Homo sapiens: one gene and its partners. The protein of the gene in region 1 purifies or fractionates together with the protein of each later gene. This does not show direct contact. Each region holds a gene or a part of one and is shown on either strand. Other genes may lie near its edges.

Evidence for each region. Proteins that work in one complex are often made in the same cells at the same time.
Region 2: the proteins of OSBPL11 (region 1) and ALDH6A1 purify together in Homo sapiens (co-immunoprecipitation; one large-scale study listed by IntAct). This does not show direct contact.
Region 3: the proteins of OSBPL11 (region 1) and TRIO purify together in Homo sapiens (co-immunoprecipitation; one large-scale study listed by IntAct). This does not show direct contact.
Region 4: the proteins of OSBPL11 (region 1) and NPC2 purify together in Homo sapiens (co-immunoprecipitation; one large-scale study listed by IntAct). This does not show direct contact.

Annotation. Positions count from the first base shown.
Region 1 is NC_000003.12:125,532,998-125,536,497, reverse strand, and holds part of OSBPL11 (oxysterol-binding protein-related protein 11), read left to right. Parts: intron 1-3,500. UniProt on the Homo sapiens protein: Plays a role in regulating ADIPOQ and FABP4 levels in differentiating adipocytes and is also involved in regulation of adipocyte triglyceride storage. Weakly binds 25-hydroxycholesterol. Interacts with OSBPL9 to function as lipid transfer proteins.
Region 2 is NC_000014.9:74,074,454-74,077,953, reverse strand, and holds part of ALDH6A1 (methylmalonate-semialdehyde/malonate-semialdehyde dehydrogenase [acylating], mitochondrial isoform 1 precursor), read left to right. Parts: intron 1-2,936; coding exon 2,937-2,999; intron 3,000-3,500. UniProt on the Homo sapiens protein: Malonate and methylmalonate semialdehyde dehydrogenase involved in the catabolism of valine, thymine, and compounds catabolized by way of beta-alanine, including uracil and cytidine.
Region 3 is NC_000005.10:14,142,082-14,146,141, forward strand, and holds the start of TRIO (triple functional domain protein), read left to right. Parts: upstream 1-1,260; 5' UTR 1,261-1,644; coding exon 1,645-1,801; exon of another isoform or gene 1,802-2,448; intron 2,449-2,724; exon of another isoform or gene 2,725-2,900; coding exon of another isoform or gene 2,901-2,940; intron 2,941-4,060. UniProt on the Homo sapiens protein: Guanine nucleotide exchange factor (GEF) for RHOA and RAC1 GTPases. Involved in coordinating actin remodeling, which is necessary for cell migration and growth. Plays a key role in the regulation of neurite outgrowth and lamellipodia formation.
Region 4 is NC_000014.9:74,483,306-74,486,805, reverse strand, and holds part of NPC2 (NPC intracellular cholesterol transporter 2 isoform 2 precursor), read left to right. Parts: intron 1-369; coding exon 370-477; intron 478-2,218; coding exon 2,219-2,391; intron 2,392-3,500. UniProt on the Homo sapiens protein: Intracellular cholesterol transporter which acts in concert with NPC1 and plays an important role in the egress of cholesterol from the lysosomal compartment.

The sequences.
Region 1 (3,500 bases):
GAACTTGGTGCTTATATTATTGAACGTGATTTTTTAAAATATTGTATAGTATGTCAACATCTGGAAGATCTGCATAACTCAATGAACCAGTATTTTTCAAATGACTAATGCATGATATTACAGAATCATGCATGGATAAATGATCCATTCAGGATGCACATTAGACCAGTGGATTTCCATATAAGTTATTTGAAAAAATATTGACATTCTTAAATTTTCCACATTGCAACTGGCCTTTTTAAAATTACCAGTTGTCGAGTTTTGAAACAGTATGAAAGAATTGAATTATTTGAAAAATCTGTAAAAATATTTCTTCTCTTTTTCAAACTGTATCTGTGTGAGGCCAGAATTTTTTTTTTTTTTTTGAGATGGACTCACTCTGTCACCTAAGTTGGAGTGCAGTGGCATGATCTCGGCTCACTGCAACCTCTGCCTCCTGGGCTCAAGCGATTCTCATGCCTCAGCCTCCCAAGTAGCTGGGATTACAGGTGCACACCACCACACCCAACTGATTTTTTTGTATTTTTAATAGAGATGGGGTTTCACCATGTTGGTCAGGCTGGTCTTGAACTCCTGATCTCAGGTGATCCGCCCACCTCGGCCTCCCAAAGTGCTGGAATTACAGGCTTGAGCCACCATGCCCGGCCCAGATTTTTCCTATATATACTTTAAATCAATATATCACCACAGATTGAATGTATGGGCAGATAAAGAGATGCTTCTGGGCCGGTGTGGTGGCTCACGCCTATAATCCCAGCATGTTGGAAGGCCAAGGCGGGTGTGTCACTTGAGGTCAGGAGTTCAAGACCAGCCTGGCCAACATGGTGAAACCCCATCTCTACTAAAAATACAAAAATCAGCCAGGCATCTCTACTAAAAATACAAAAATCACCTGGCGTGGTGGCGTGCACCTGTAGTCTCAGCTACTCGGGAGGCTGAGGCATGAGAATCACTTGAACCCAGGAGGTGGAGGTTGCAGTGAGCCGCCGTTGAACCACTGCACTCTAGCCTGGGTGACAGAGCCAGACTGTCTCAAAAAAAAAAAAAAAAAAAAAAAAGATGCTTCTGAATTTTATTTGCTAAAATTTTGTAATGAATTTTATAGTTTCTATATACATGAGGGATATTGCTCTGTTCTTTTCTTTAGGGGAAGGTTTTGAATTACAAATTACGTATGTTTAATATATAGGGCTGTTAAGGTTTTCTGTTTCTTCAGTGAGCTTTGGTAGTTTGTCTTTCAAGGAATTGGTTCATTTCAGCTAATGTGTCAAATTTATTGTCATATAGTTCCTAATATTACCTTATTTTTTTATCTGTGTAGGATCTATAGTGATATCCCCATACTTATTCCTTATATTTGTAATATCTTTTTTCTCATCAGTGTGACTAAAAGTTTATTAATTTTACACAAAAAACCAGATTTTGGCTTCACTGATTTAATCTATGTTTGTTTTCTTTCTCATTGAATTTTGCTCTTTTATAAAATCTCTTTTTTTCTCCTTACATTGTAAATAATTTGCTTTTTTTTTTTTTTTTTTTTTTTTTTCTAATTTCTTACAATGGAAGCTTAGGTTAGGGGTCAGCAAACTTTTTCTGTAAAAGGCCAATTAATATTTTAGCCTTAGTGGACCAAATAGCCTCTCCCACAGCTACTCAACTCTGCCCTTATAGCATGAAACATCCATAGACAATAAGTCAATGATGAGACATTGTTAAATTGCAATAAAAAATTATTTACAAAAATGGGCTGTGGGCCATAGTTTGATCCCTGGTTTAGCTCATCAATATTTTTTTCCTAAATGTTTAATGCTGTAAATTTTCCTCTGAGGACTGCTTTATTTCTATCTGATGACTTTTTATGTGTTTTCATTTCGAAATATTTTCTTATTTCCTTTGTGGGTTTTTTTTTTTTAACTCATGAACTTATTTACAAATGTGTTGATGATTTCTAAATGTTTAGAGATTTTCCAGCTAGCTTTCCATTATTTATTTCTAATTTAGTTTCATTTTGGTGAAAGAATATACTTTGTATGATTTTAATTCTTTATTTAGGTTTGTTTAATGATTCTGAATATGTTCTGTCTTGGTAAATGTTTCTTTTTTTTTTTTTAAGACAAAGTAGTGTCTTACTCTGTCGCCCAGGCTGGAGTGCAGTGATGCAGTCTCGGCTCACTGCAACCTCCACCTCCCTGGTTCAAGCGATTCTCATGCCTCAGCCTCCCGAGTAGCTGGGACTACAGGCGTGTGCCACCACACCCAGCTAATTTTTTTATATTTTTAGTAGAGATGGGGTTTCACCATGTTGGCCAGGCTGGTCTCAAACTCCTGACCTCAAGTGATCCACTCACGTCGGCCTCCCAAAGTGCTAGAATTATTCATGAGCCACCACACCTGGCCTTGGTAAATGTTTCATGTGCCCTTGACACGAATGTGTATTAAGCCCAAGAGTTTGAGACCAGCCTGGGTAACATGGCAAAACTCTGTCTCCACAAAAAATATAAAAATTAGTTGGATGTGATGGCATGTGCCTGTAATGCCAGCTACTCAGGAGGCTGAGGTGAGTGTGTTCTATAAACGTCAGGTCAAATGAGTTGACAGTATTTTTCTAGTCTTCTGTAGTCTTACAGATTTTCTGTGTATTTATTCTATCAGTTGAGTTTAGTTATTGAGATTGGTTATTAAAATTACCAATTACAATTGAATATTTCACTTTGTAGTTCTGCAAGTTGTTACTTCATTTTATTAGAAGTTCTGTTATTAGGGCAGGCATTTATATTTAGGATTGTTATGTCTTGATGTTTCTGTTTTTGTTTTAATGTCTTTGGTTATTTATGGAGAATTCCTTATAAATTCATTTTTATTTTTGAGCCATCTCATGTATCATATTTTTTTAAAAGGATATTTGATACTTGATTTTCAGAAATGTGTTAGGAAACCTTTTGGAGCCATTAAGATACATATGTAGCCTTAATTCTTTAAATTATAAGACCTTTGGCATACTATCCAGCACTTTGGGAGGCCGAGGTGGGCGGGTCATTTGAGGTCAGGAGTTCGAGACCAGCCTGGCCAACATGATGAAACCCTGTCTGTACTCAAAATACAAAAATTAGCCGGGCATGGTGGTGCACGCCTGTAGTCCCAGCTACTCAAGAAAGTGAGGCAGGAGAATTGCTTGAGTCCGGGAGGCAGAGGTTGCAGTGAGCTGAGATGGTGACAGTGAGACCCTGTCTCAAAAAAAGAAAAAAGAGAAGAGACGAGAACAGAAGAGAAAGAGGGAGGGAGGGAGAGAGAAGGGAGGGAGGGAAGGGGAGGAAGAGAAGGAAGGGGGGAGGAAAGAAAGGAAGAAAGAAAGAAAAAACAGATGTTTAGTAACTTTCTCGAGTAGTACAGTCATTACCATAAATAAGTTTTAGAATATTTTCATCCTACCGTAAGATCTCTCTTGTTCATTTACAGTTAATCCCCATTACCCCCAGCCCAGAGAACCACTAACTTTCTGT
Region 2 (3,500 bases), on another chromosome or scaffold:
ATGACATAACAATAAGATTTAATGAGTACCAGCTTTGTGCTAACTACTTTTCTATAACTGGACAGTCCTGATCAGGTTTAATCTTTAACTCTGAAGTAGGTGAACAAGACAGATGCAGTGTCAACCCTCCTGAAACTGACAGTCTTTATGGGTAACAGATAAGTACCCAGGTGCTGTGGCTTGGATATGGTTGGTTTGTCTCCACCAAAACTCATGTTGAAATTTAATCTCCAATGTGATAGTGTTGGGACCTAGTGGGAGGTGTTTGGGTCATGGGGGTGGATCCCTCATGAATGGCTTTGTGCTGTAGTGAGTGAATTCTTGCTCTTTTGAGACTGGATTAGTTCCCATGGGAATGGATTAGTTCCTGTGTGAGTGGGCTATAAAGCCAGGATACCCCCCCAGTTTTGCCTCTTCACACAGGTCTGCTTCCCCTTTGATCTTCTCTGTTATATTATGACACAGGACAGAAGCCCTCGCCAGAAGCTAGAGCCATTCCCTTGAACTTCCCAGCCTGCAGAATCATGAACTAAATAAACTACTTTTCCTTATAAATTGCCCAGTCTCAGGTATTTTGTTATAGCAACACAAAACGGAATAAGATACCAAACAATTACAACACAGAGAGATAAGCCTGAAACGGGAAGTATTGGCTGCTTTCAGAGGACAAAAAAGGGCCTCTTAACCTAGTTTGGGGTAGGAAGCAGACAGGAATGGGCTTCTATTTTATTCAGCAGATATTTACTGAACACCTACTACCTACCGAGTACTATATTGGTATTGGGAACATAGCTATAAATAAGACATGATGGGCTCCAGGAGAGTGTCAGTGGTTTGAAATGGCTTTGGTAGGGAATAGAAGAGCAAACAGATGAGGTATTTGGAAGGACTATCTGCTGGACCAAAGGACCACCACCTTTTCCTGGGCAGTGCTGCAGGCACCCTTCATGCAGCTCTATACTCTGGTTAACAGAGTCCCTTTTCAGGCAAGATAAAAGATTATTAGATTGCAGCTTTCCTTTATATCCCAGTCCTGAGTATTTTAGTTTGCTCATTTTGATTGGCTTAAGTATTTCTTAAATCAACTTTGATAACATATATATAGGCTGGGTGCAGTGGCTTACACCTGTAATCCCAGCACTCTGGGAGGCTGAGGCGGGTGGATCACCTGAGGTCAGGAGTTTGAGACCAGCCAGGCCAACATGGTGAAACCCCATCTCTACTAAAAATACAAAAAAAATAAAATAAAATTAGCCAGGCATGGTGGCGGGTGTCTGTAATCTCAGCTACTCAGGAGGCTGAGGCAGGAGAAAAGCTTGAACCCAGGAGGTGGAGGTTGCAGTGAGCCAAGGTCATGCCACTGTACTCCAGCCTGGTCAATGAGAGCAAAATTCTGTCTCAAAAAATAAATAAATAAAAAGAAAATTAGCTGGGCGTGGTGGCAGACACCTATAATCTGAGCTACTTGGCAGGCTGAGGCAGGAGAATCGCTTGAACACGGGAGGCAGAGGTTGCAGTGAGCCGAGATCATGCCACTGCACTCCAGCCTGGGCGACAGAGTGAGACTCCATCTCAAAAAATCAACTTTGATAACATATATACAGACTTTTTTAGTGAGTTACAATTTGAGAGTTATCTTGTTGAAACTGATCCTCCCCGTTTACTGATTTTACTCCATCAAATATTATCTATCCAACACATTTTTTCCTTTAATGTACCTATGGCATTTCAATATAGCTTTATTAAAATAAAATTGACACAAAACAATCTGTACATATTTAAAGTATGCAGTTTGATGAGTTTTAACATTTGTATACACCTGTGAAAATAGCATCACAATCAACATAATGAACATATGTCCATCACCCCAAAAAGTTTCCCTCGTCATCCCTAGGTAACCACTGTTCTGCTTTCTGATATTACAGATTTGTTTGCATTCTCTAGTGTTACATAAGTAGAATCATACAGTATGTACTTTTATTATCTAACTTCTGTCTCTTGCCATAATTATTATGACTATTTATATTGCATGTATCAGCAGGTCATTCCTTTTTTTGCTGAGTAGTATTCCAGTGTATGAATATACCACATTAGTTTCCTTATTCACCCATCCAATGGTAGACATTGGGTTGTTTCCAAGTTTTGGGCTACTACAAATAAAGTTCTTATGAACATTCATTTTTCAAATACCTATATGGACATAATTTTAATTGCATTTGGTAATAAATTTTGATTTATATTTACATTGATTATATACTCTATTACTTATATTTATATTTACATTGATTTTTTTTTTTGAGACAAGGTCTCCCTCTCTCTTCCTGGCTGGAGTGCAGTGGCATAATCACGGTTCACTGCAGCCTCACCCTCCCGGGCTGAAGCAATCCTCCCACCTTGGCCTCCCTAGTAGCTGGGACCACAGGCATGTGCCACCACTGCCTGGCTAATTTTTTAATTTTTTGTAGACAAGGTTTTGCCATGTTGCCCAGGGTGGTCTCAAAACTCCTAGACTCAAGTGATATACCCGTCTCAGCTTCCCAAAGTGCTGAGATTACAGGCGTGAGTCACCATGCCCAGCACATTGATTTTATATGATCTTAAATTCAGTACCTATTGTGTTAGATACCATGCTAAGTATTTTCATATTGTTAGATTTATGGTACATTTGCCAGGCCCAAATTAGGAAAATATAATGACAAAAAGATTTTTTTTAATCAGTACTATCCTGGAAATATAGGACATGATTATTATGGTTTATTGTTTGTTCATAGTTTGCTGTGTCATAGATTCATATCTTTTCTCTTTAATGACTGTATGGCCTTTGAGAGAAACATACCCCCTATATACTATAGCAAATAGCATATAGTAGCTATTTGCTAAATTTTAAATAACTTTCTGCTCTCATTTATCAAAATAATCGTTCTTTTGCCTCACAGGTTTCTTCCAAGGTGAAATCCAGTCCCACCTGGTATTCAGCATCTTCCTTCTCTTCTTCAGTGGTGAGTTTATTTGGCATAGAGGTTGACTTCTGAGAAGGAATTCAGTATAGTTTTGGGTATCTCTATCTTCTTTACATAATTGTCATCAGAGTGTATGTGAAACTTTCTAGTTTTTTCCTCCTTTTGGATTATTTCCCTCCTGAAATGGATTACCATGTCAAAAGATACAAACATTTTCATGGCTTCTAGAGGTTCTGCTGACCCTGCCAGATAGTTGTCTTCTTCTTAATGACCTTTAGAGTGGTTTTTACAGATCATCTGTCTGTCAACCACTTCCAGCATCTAAAATCTAATAAATAAGGACTATTGCTCAAATTCTTTCTACACAGAAGTATGCACACACTGTACCACAGTAGGTCACCATTTTTTGGTTCATAGACCGCTTTAAAAATTTAGTGTCCCAGCACTTTGGGAGGCTGAGGCAGGTGGATCACGAGGTCAAGAGATCGAGACCATCCTGGCCAACATGGGGAAACCACATCTCTACTAAAAATACAAAAC
Region 3 (4,060 bases), on another chromosome or scaffold:
TTCCCGTCCCAGTCCTAGAATCAGTCATTTCCTCAAGGAGCTCTGGCTCCTTTTATTGGAGAATGGTACTAGAAGCAAGATCAGAGCGCTAGGTGTATTCGTTGCTACAGAGTGTTGTGTCTAGGCCCACTCAGCTGACAAAGCAAAGAGATACAAGTATGTGTACGACCCTTTATCTACAAATCTCTGTACAGACCCATTATATACATTATGAATATATAATATAGATGTAGACCCCAAACATGAGTCCATAACGATGTCTCCAACTCTAACCCTGTACCACAAGGATCACTCTAGCCTCTTCCTGGCTGTAACCTCCACTCCAGCAGTGAAGATTTGATGGCCACCATCCACCATTTACATTTGTCTATTTCCAGTATACTCGTGTGGTGGTTTCATCACCCAGTTGTTTTTCATCTCTCTTGCTTCTGCCTGTTTCCCCCGGCACTGGATCCTTTCACTCTCCTCGTAGCCGGGGCATAGGCGTTTTGAACTAGAATATTCGTCCAGCGCTGGTTTGACACGGATCTTCCGCAAAGGAACATTTCTTTTGGCCTCCCCAGACCCCGTCATCTTCCCCATTCATTCTGGCGGAGTAAGGACTGAGAAACCGTGAACCCGAGGTTCAGCAGCCGAAAGTCCCCTGGGAGATGGGGATACACCGAGAGGAATCCCATTTTACAGGAGAGCTTTGTACCCTTAGGAGTACCGTGGCCTCCGGGACTGGAGCAGATAACCTGTTTTCGGGCCCTCTATGTTCACTCAACAACTATTAAGAAGCCCCCTCCCCGAGCCAGGGCCAGCGCTGAGCCCACTAGGGAGGCACCCGCCCCGGCCCGCGTCACCCCGCCTTGCGGGCTAGACGACGAAACGCCTCGGCGCTCAGGGGACCGCGCACCGGTGCAGGAGCCAGCGCCCCGGTTGGGGGCGCAATGCCGGGCCTGGGAAGGTCCGCCCCGGCTGGTCAGAGCTTTCCTGCGCCTTCCAAGGCTTGGAGCTGCCCCGGGGAAGCAGACCGAACCAAACCGAACGTTCCTGCAGCCTCCCCGCCAGCCCTGCGGGAGCCCATCCGCCCAACGCGGCCCCGCCCCTCCCCCAGGCTCCGCCCACCGCCGAGCCCAGGCTCGGCCCTTGACGAAGTTCGCCGGAAATTACCGAAGCCCCTCTTTTTTTTCCTTCCTCTCCGTTCCCTGTTCTCCCTTTTCCTTTCACCCGGGTTCCCTCGGCCGTGATTTCCCCCTCCCCCCTCCTTCCTTCCCCATTGAAATCAAGATGGAGGCTCGCGGCAGCCGCCGGCGCCCGTGATCCCGGAGGTCTCGCCGGCCACGGGCCCCCGCCCTCGCGACTGCGCGTCCGGGAGGCGCGTGCTGCTGCCCGCGCTCCGGCCGGCGCCCGGGAGGCCGTGGCTCCGCGCCTCCGCCCCTCGGCCAGCTCGCGGCTACCGGGCGGAGTCCTCGTCTATGTGGGCGCGCTCCTTGGGCCGAGCCGCCGCCGCCGCCCCCCGCCGCCCCGGGGCTCTGCGTCCGCGCGCCGGGCGCGGGCAGCTGGGTGCTCGGCGCCGCCAGGCCCGGCGCGGAGCGGGCGGCACGCGGCGCTAGGGGCGCGGGGCCCGAGGCGGGCGCGGCCGCGGGCGCCGCCGCAGCCATGAGCGGCAGCAGCGGCGGAGCCGCCGCCCCCGCCGCGTCCTCCGGCCCCGCCGCGGCGGCCAGCGCGGCTGGCTCGGGCTGCGGGGGCGGTGCCGGCGAGGGGGCAGAGGAGGCGGCCAAGGACCTGGCCGACATCGCGGCCTTCTTCCGATCCGGTGAGTGCAACTGCGGCCGGCCCGCCCAGCGGCGCTGCCCCAAGCGCTCGGCCGACCCGCCGCGGAGCTGCCGAGCTCCGGCCACCGCGCGCTGGTGCCCGCCCGTCCGTCCGTCGGGGCCCGCAGGCTCTCGCCTGGGACCACTGCTTCCATGCGCCGGGGCTGCCCGCCCCACATCCGCGTGTCCCGCTGCCCGCGCAGCCGGGCGCGCGGCAGCTTGGCCCGAATGCCACCACCTCGCCCTCCCTGCGCCCGCCCCTCGTTTTAGGGCAGAATCCCCCGGTCTGCCGCTCCCGGCAGCCGCGGCTTCGCGGGTTGGGGCGCCGGCTCTTTGTCTCTTTCGCTGGAGGACCGAGGAGGCGGCGGCGGAGATGGCGTGGGCGGAGGCTCTTACCCCGGAGGCCGAGCGGACTGAGCCGGGGCCGGTCCGGGACGGGAAATTGGTCTTTGATCTGTGCCTGTCTCTGGCTGATTTGTACCTGGACCCTCCTCGACCCCATTAGCAGCCGGGTTTCTTTGCTTGGCCCTCTAGCCTGTCATCTCCCCGGCCTTGGTCTACACTTCTGTGAAACGGGGCAGTCACGGCACTCACTGCCCAGGGAGTGGGGACGGTGGCCGAGCTGAAGCTCGGAGGACCGGGAGGCGCGGTGAGCCATTGTCTCCGGGGACGACCCGGGAGGGTCAGCTGGGAACGTGGCCCCGGGGGGGCGGCGCGGGGCTGGGGCTCGCGGGGCACTGTGTGGGTGGCGTGGAGGTGGAGGCGGTGCCAGGTGGCCCCGAGTCCACCCCGGCGCAGAGGGGGTGGCCGCGGGAGAGGCGCGGGTGGCGACCGGTCCGCGGGAGGGGCACCGGGTTTGCTGCGCAGGGGGCGTGACAGGGCGTCCCCGGTACCCCAGCGGCGGCGCCTCCTCCCGCTCCGGCCCAGATCCCGCGCGAGCCGGGCCCGCGTCCCCGCGTCCCGCGTCCCCGCGCCCAGTCCGGTCTGCTCGCGCGTCGGCTGAGCAGCAGCAGGAGGAGGAGGAGGCGGCGGCGGCGGCGGCGGCCTCGGGGCCGGCACCCAGAGCGCAGTCCTTAGCGGGCCGGGCACGGGGCAGGGAGGATGCAGACTCCGGGTTGGAGAGCGGAGGAGGGCGGGCCAGGTCCGGGCCTGGAGAGGCGGGCGGGGGTGCTGGTGGCGGCCTCGGGGAGGACGGCCGGGCTGGGGACACCGACAGGCCGGGGGAGCGGCCCTGCGCTGGGGGACGCGCGGGAGGTCGGCGGTTCACGCTTTTCCGTGGCCTCTTTGAAAATCACCTCCCCAGATTCGGTGAGATCAGTTCCCCAATCCGGGTCACGAGGAGCAATTGCAGCGGGAGGGCGATGGTGAGAGGCAGAAGTTAGCAGTGCTGGTAGATACCTGGTTTAGTACTGTCTTCTCTTGGTTGTCTTGATCTTTGCTAGGCGGGGTTATTTTTGATTCATTTTAGCAGATTGGTTGTGGCTGGGAGTGACACAGCCGACTGTCCAGTGTTAGCTTGGGGTTAATCTACTCCCCAGTGCTCACTCTCCTTGAGAAGTGCCTGCAGAAAGCAAAGGTTTAGGAAAACATGAGCTCCTTCTAAAGAAAGCTACCCCCCCCCACCTTTTTTTTTTTGGTGCGACTGGCCAGATAGAGCAGCCCCGTCTTACCTCTTAATAGCAGAACTGGGACGTATTCCCTTCATGCCCTGAAGCTAAGTCTAGCTTTCTCTCTACCTACCTGTCACAGAATAATAGATTCTGTGCAGAATTCAGCTCCTCTCTGTTAGAAAGGCTCTTCTGCGTTGGAGATGGATTTTTTGGTGTTTGTGAGACCAGGCTTTTTTACATCTCTATTATGCATAGTACAAAAATCACTTCTGCTGCTGCTAAGAGCCCTCCCTAAAAGACACCGAAGATTTGCTGCCTGTTGGCGTGGCTCTCTCCAGGAGTTGTCGTCTGCTCTTGGCTTTGCTTAGGCCTGTGCTGCCCCCGCCGCCAGGGCTCCTGTTCATGTTCCGTTTGGGTCAGAACCAGGTAATGTCTCACTGGCTTGTTCCTTTCTTCTGCCCTCCAAAATGACAAACTTAACTTTTTAGTTGTTTCACTTAGAATCAGGAGCCAGGGCAGAACTTAAGTAGGTATCAGATGCAGCATCCCATTCCAGCGATAGCCTGGAACGTCTTTTTAAAAGTGAAATCTCCTTTGGGCAGCTCTGAGTCCCTGACCTAGATCTTGGCTCTAGCATCTAGGCCAACGATG
Region 4 (3,500 bases), on another chromosome or scaffold:
AAGAATGCGAGATAAGACTCTAGGAATGTTTGGAATTTCTCTGATTGAAGTTTAATTCCTTTAATATGATCATTTATGGATATGGTCTTGATATTATTTAGTTTGACAAATATTAACTTTCTCTTGATCAAAAAACCAACTAGCTTCTTTATCATCTGAATTAAAGGCTATGATTTTAGCAGCAAGATGAATCAAGATTCTGACTTCTAATTGGGCATTATTCTTAAAGATTCCATCCTGGGAAACAGTCCGAGGAGAATGAGTTGACCCTAAATGGGAGAGCAGAGCACCTTCCCATTAGGTGGTGGGCAGCCTAGCTGGCTTATTTCTCCTCCTATTCTCCTATTCCAATTCATTTTTCTTTTGCAGGTTCTGTGGATGGAGTTATAAAGGAAGTGAATGTGAGCCCATGCCCCACCCAACCCTGCCAGCTGAGCAAAGGACAGTCTTACAGCGTCAATGTCACCTTCACCAGCAGTGCGTAAAAGTGGCTCTTAACTCAAATTCATGTTACAGCATAACCTAAATATCAAGTGTTGGAATAAGCATGGGAATGGAGGGGAGGGGAATTGGCAGTCATGAATTTTATGATTTCTTTTGCACCTCATGCAAAGCTAGGGTTCACTGTGCCCTTGGACACCCTTCTCATGCAGGGTCCATGGCTCCCAGACTCCCTTTAAGCAAACAGGGAGATGTCCATGTGTTCACAGGTTAGAGAAGACAGCTTGGCTTTTCTGTCTTGACCCATATTGCATAGTAGGCTATGATGGGAATGTCAGCTCTGTTTAGCTACAGACTGCAGAGTATTAGTATGGACCCCAATTCTTTAAGCTTTGGAACTCCTCCAAAATGTTGTTTTAAGCAGTAATGCCTTTCAGCTATTAAGTCTACATCCCACCTGAAAATAAAGGTGCAACTAATACTTAACAGCCTCCTTAAGATTTAGGGAACCCACTGGGGACCCAAGAAATAGCCAAGAAATCTGAGCTTTCTTCTCCAATATTCAAGAAATATCATTGGAACTTTTTGCTTTCTTGTACCACATCACTTTGAGATTTTTAAGAATCTAGACAAATGTAAAATCTTTTATTACTAAGCAGGGCATGTTCCTTGAATCTTTTCCTCATTTTCTGTCCTGTGAAACTAGACTAGACAGTCTAATAAGAAACCTCAAAGTTCCTGTCATCTTTTGTTCATAAGCCTAAAGACAGCTCTAAGTACTAGCTCCCTGTTTCCTCTCTGGACTATACCCTGGCCTCTCTATTGTTCCAAACCAAAAAAAAAAGCCTTCTGAACAAGTCATCCCCAACCCAGACAGAAGGAAAGAAACAGAACCAATTTTCTGGGTCTCCAAAATACCCTAATAACTCATAAGTCTGATTGCCCTCATTTTTTAATACCTTTATTCCTCCTGGCCATCTTGTGATGTGGAGGGTAAAGTTTATAAAGAATTGCATGTCTTTCTAATCTTACCCAATTTCTTTTTTTTTTTTTTTTTTTTTTTTTTTTTTGTGACAGAGTCTCGCTCTGTCACCCAGGCTGGAGTGCAGTGGCGCAATCTCAGCACACTGCAACCTCCGCCTCCTGGGCTCAAGCGATTCTCCCGCCTCAGCCTCTTGAGTAGCTGAGATGACAGGCATGCGCCACCACGCCCGGCTAATTTTTGTAGTTTTAGTAGAGACAGGGTTTTTCCATGTTGGCCAGGCTGGTCTCAAACTCCTGACCTCAGATGATCCACCCGCCTCAGCCTCCCAAAGTGCTGGGATTACAGGTGGGAGCTACTGTGATCCAGCCTAATCTTACCCTGCTAAAGGGTTACCTCTTTCACTGTTGTTACAGACCATGACATTTAAGACACACAATATACTTGGACAGAAGCTGATATAAATAGCAAACAGAAAGTTTACTGCCAAAAATCAGTTGCCTTGTTAGATAAGGTTGTTTATCCAGGTATCTCTGATTCTCCTAAGAAACTGTGAAGGGCCATGAAGAGCAAGGTTAAGAGCAAAGAAAACTTCTGCTGATTGTTTTTTTTTTTTTTTTTTTTTTTGCATAATTGTGTTTGGAGTGAATGCTTGCACTGTGCTAGTACCAAGCACCACTATCAAGAGAAATAGACCCTAGGAATGCTGTTGCTTGGGATTATTTCTGAATTTTTGATTTAGAGTTTGAAAATAGGTTATTTTCTTTGCCATCTGATTCTCTTTTTTTCTCTTAGATATTCAGTCTAAAAGCAGCAAGGCCGTGGTGCATGGCATCCTGATGGGCGTCCCAGTTCCCTTTCCCATTCCTGAGCCTGATGGTTGTAAGAGTGGAATTAACTGCCCTATCCAAAAAGACAAGACCTATAGCTACCTGAATAAACTACCAGTGAAAAGCGAATATCCCTCTGTAAGTGATACCATTATTGAGGACACGGGAGGCCTTGGGACTGGATTAGAGTTCTGAGGGCAGTGGGCAAGAAGCAGAGATGGGGGTAAAGGGCCCCTTATCTCTATGATGAAGAAGAAGCCCGAGGGAAAGGAGATAGGTGCGGTGTTAGGCATCAGGAGGTAGGGCAGGTCTTTTTCTCTGTGTCTCTTCATTCTTTCACTATGACCTGATGGTTAGCCTGGGCCTAATGATGCCATTTGTTTTTTAATATACTAAAATTTAATCATACATAAGAACTGTAATTTAATCTGACAGTAAAACACAAGAAGCAATATTAGAGTTGGTTTAGTATATTGTATATTTTAGCTTTGAAAGTCGTAGAAATCAGTTACCCCAGTTTTTTTCCTATAAAAGACCCATTTTTCCAAAGCATTATGCACAATTTCAATTAGAATATAATGACAGAGGATATTCCATAATTTTTAAAATATAAAATGAGGTAATTGATTCAAAAAAGTTATCTACTGCAATATCAATATCATTACAGATATAAAGTATGATGGTTCAACTTTTTAGTGCTTGATAGGGAGGAATCATGATAAAAAGGTCAATATGAAATCATTTGATTATAGTAGCAATATCTAACATTTGAAATGCATCCATGCTCTTTTGTATAATCATATTAGAGTCAAGTATATTTTCACATCTGTTATGTCTTATTTTCCAAGAGATATACACAGAGCAGTTTTTTTTCTCCAGGGAACTTATACAAACCAATATAAGATCTAAATTCTTCACATAATGTATAAAACAGGAGAAGCCTCTTCAAATTTATTTTTTGAAGTCTGGAATGCTGGCACTTTCCAATTAGGCAATAGTTCTTCATTCCTGTAACCTAGCTCAGAGCTGCTGCTGACTATGGGCCTAGAGCAGCAGACATGATTTCTTTTTAGGCTGTTTCTTTTCCACTGGTGTTTTTCTATTTATCTGTCTGACCAGGTCATAAAATATTTCATTAACATTGACCTTTGACTTTGCAGATTATTCTAAAATGGCACAGTTCCATCACTGTCATGCTAAATTCTGGCCCTGTTCTTTGCCAACTACTCACTCATCTTCCAGGTCAC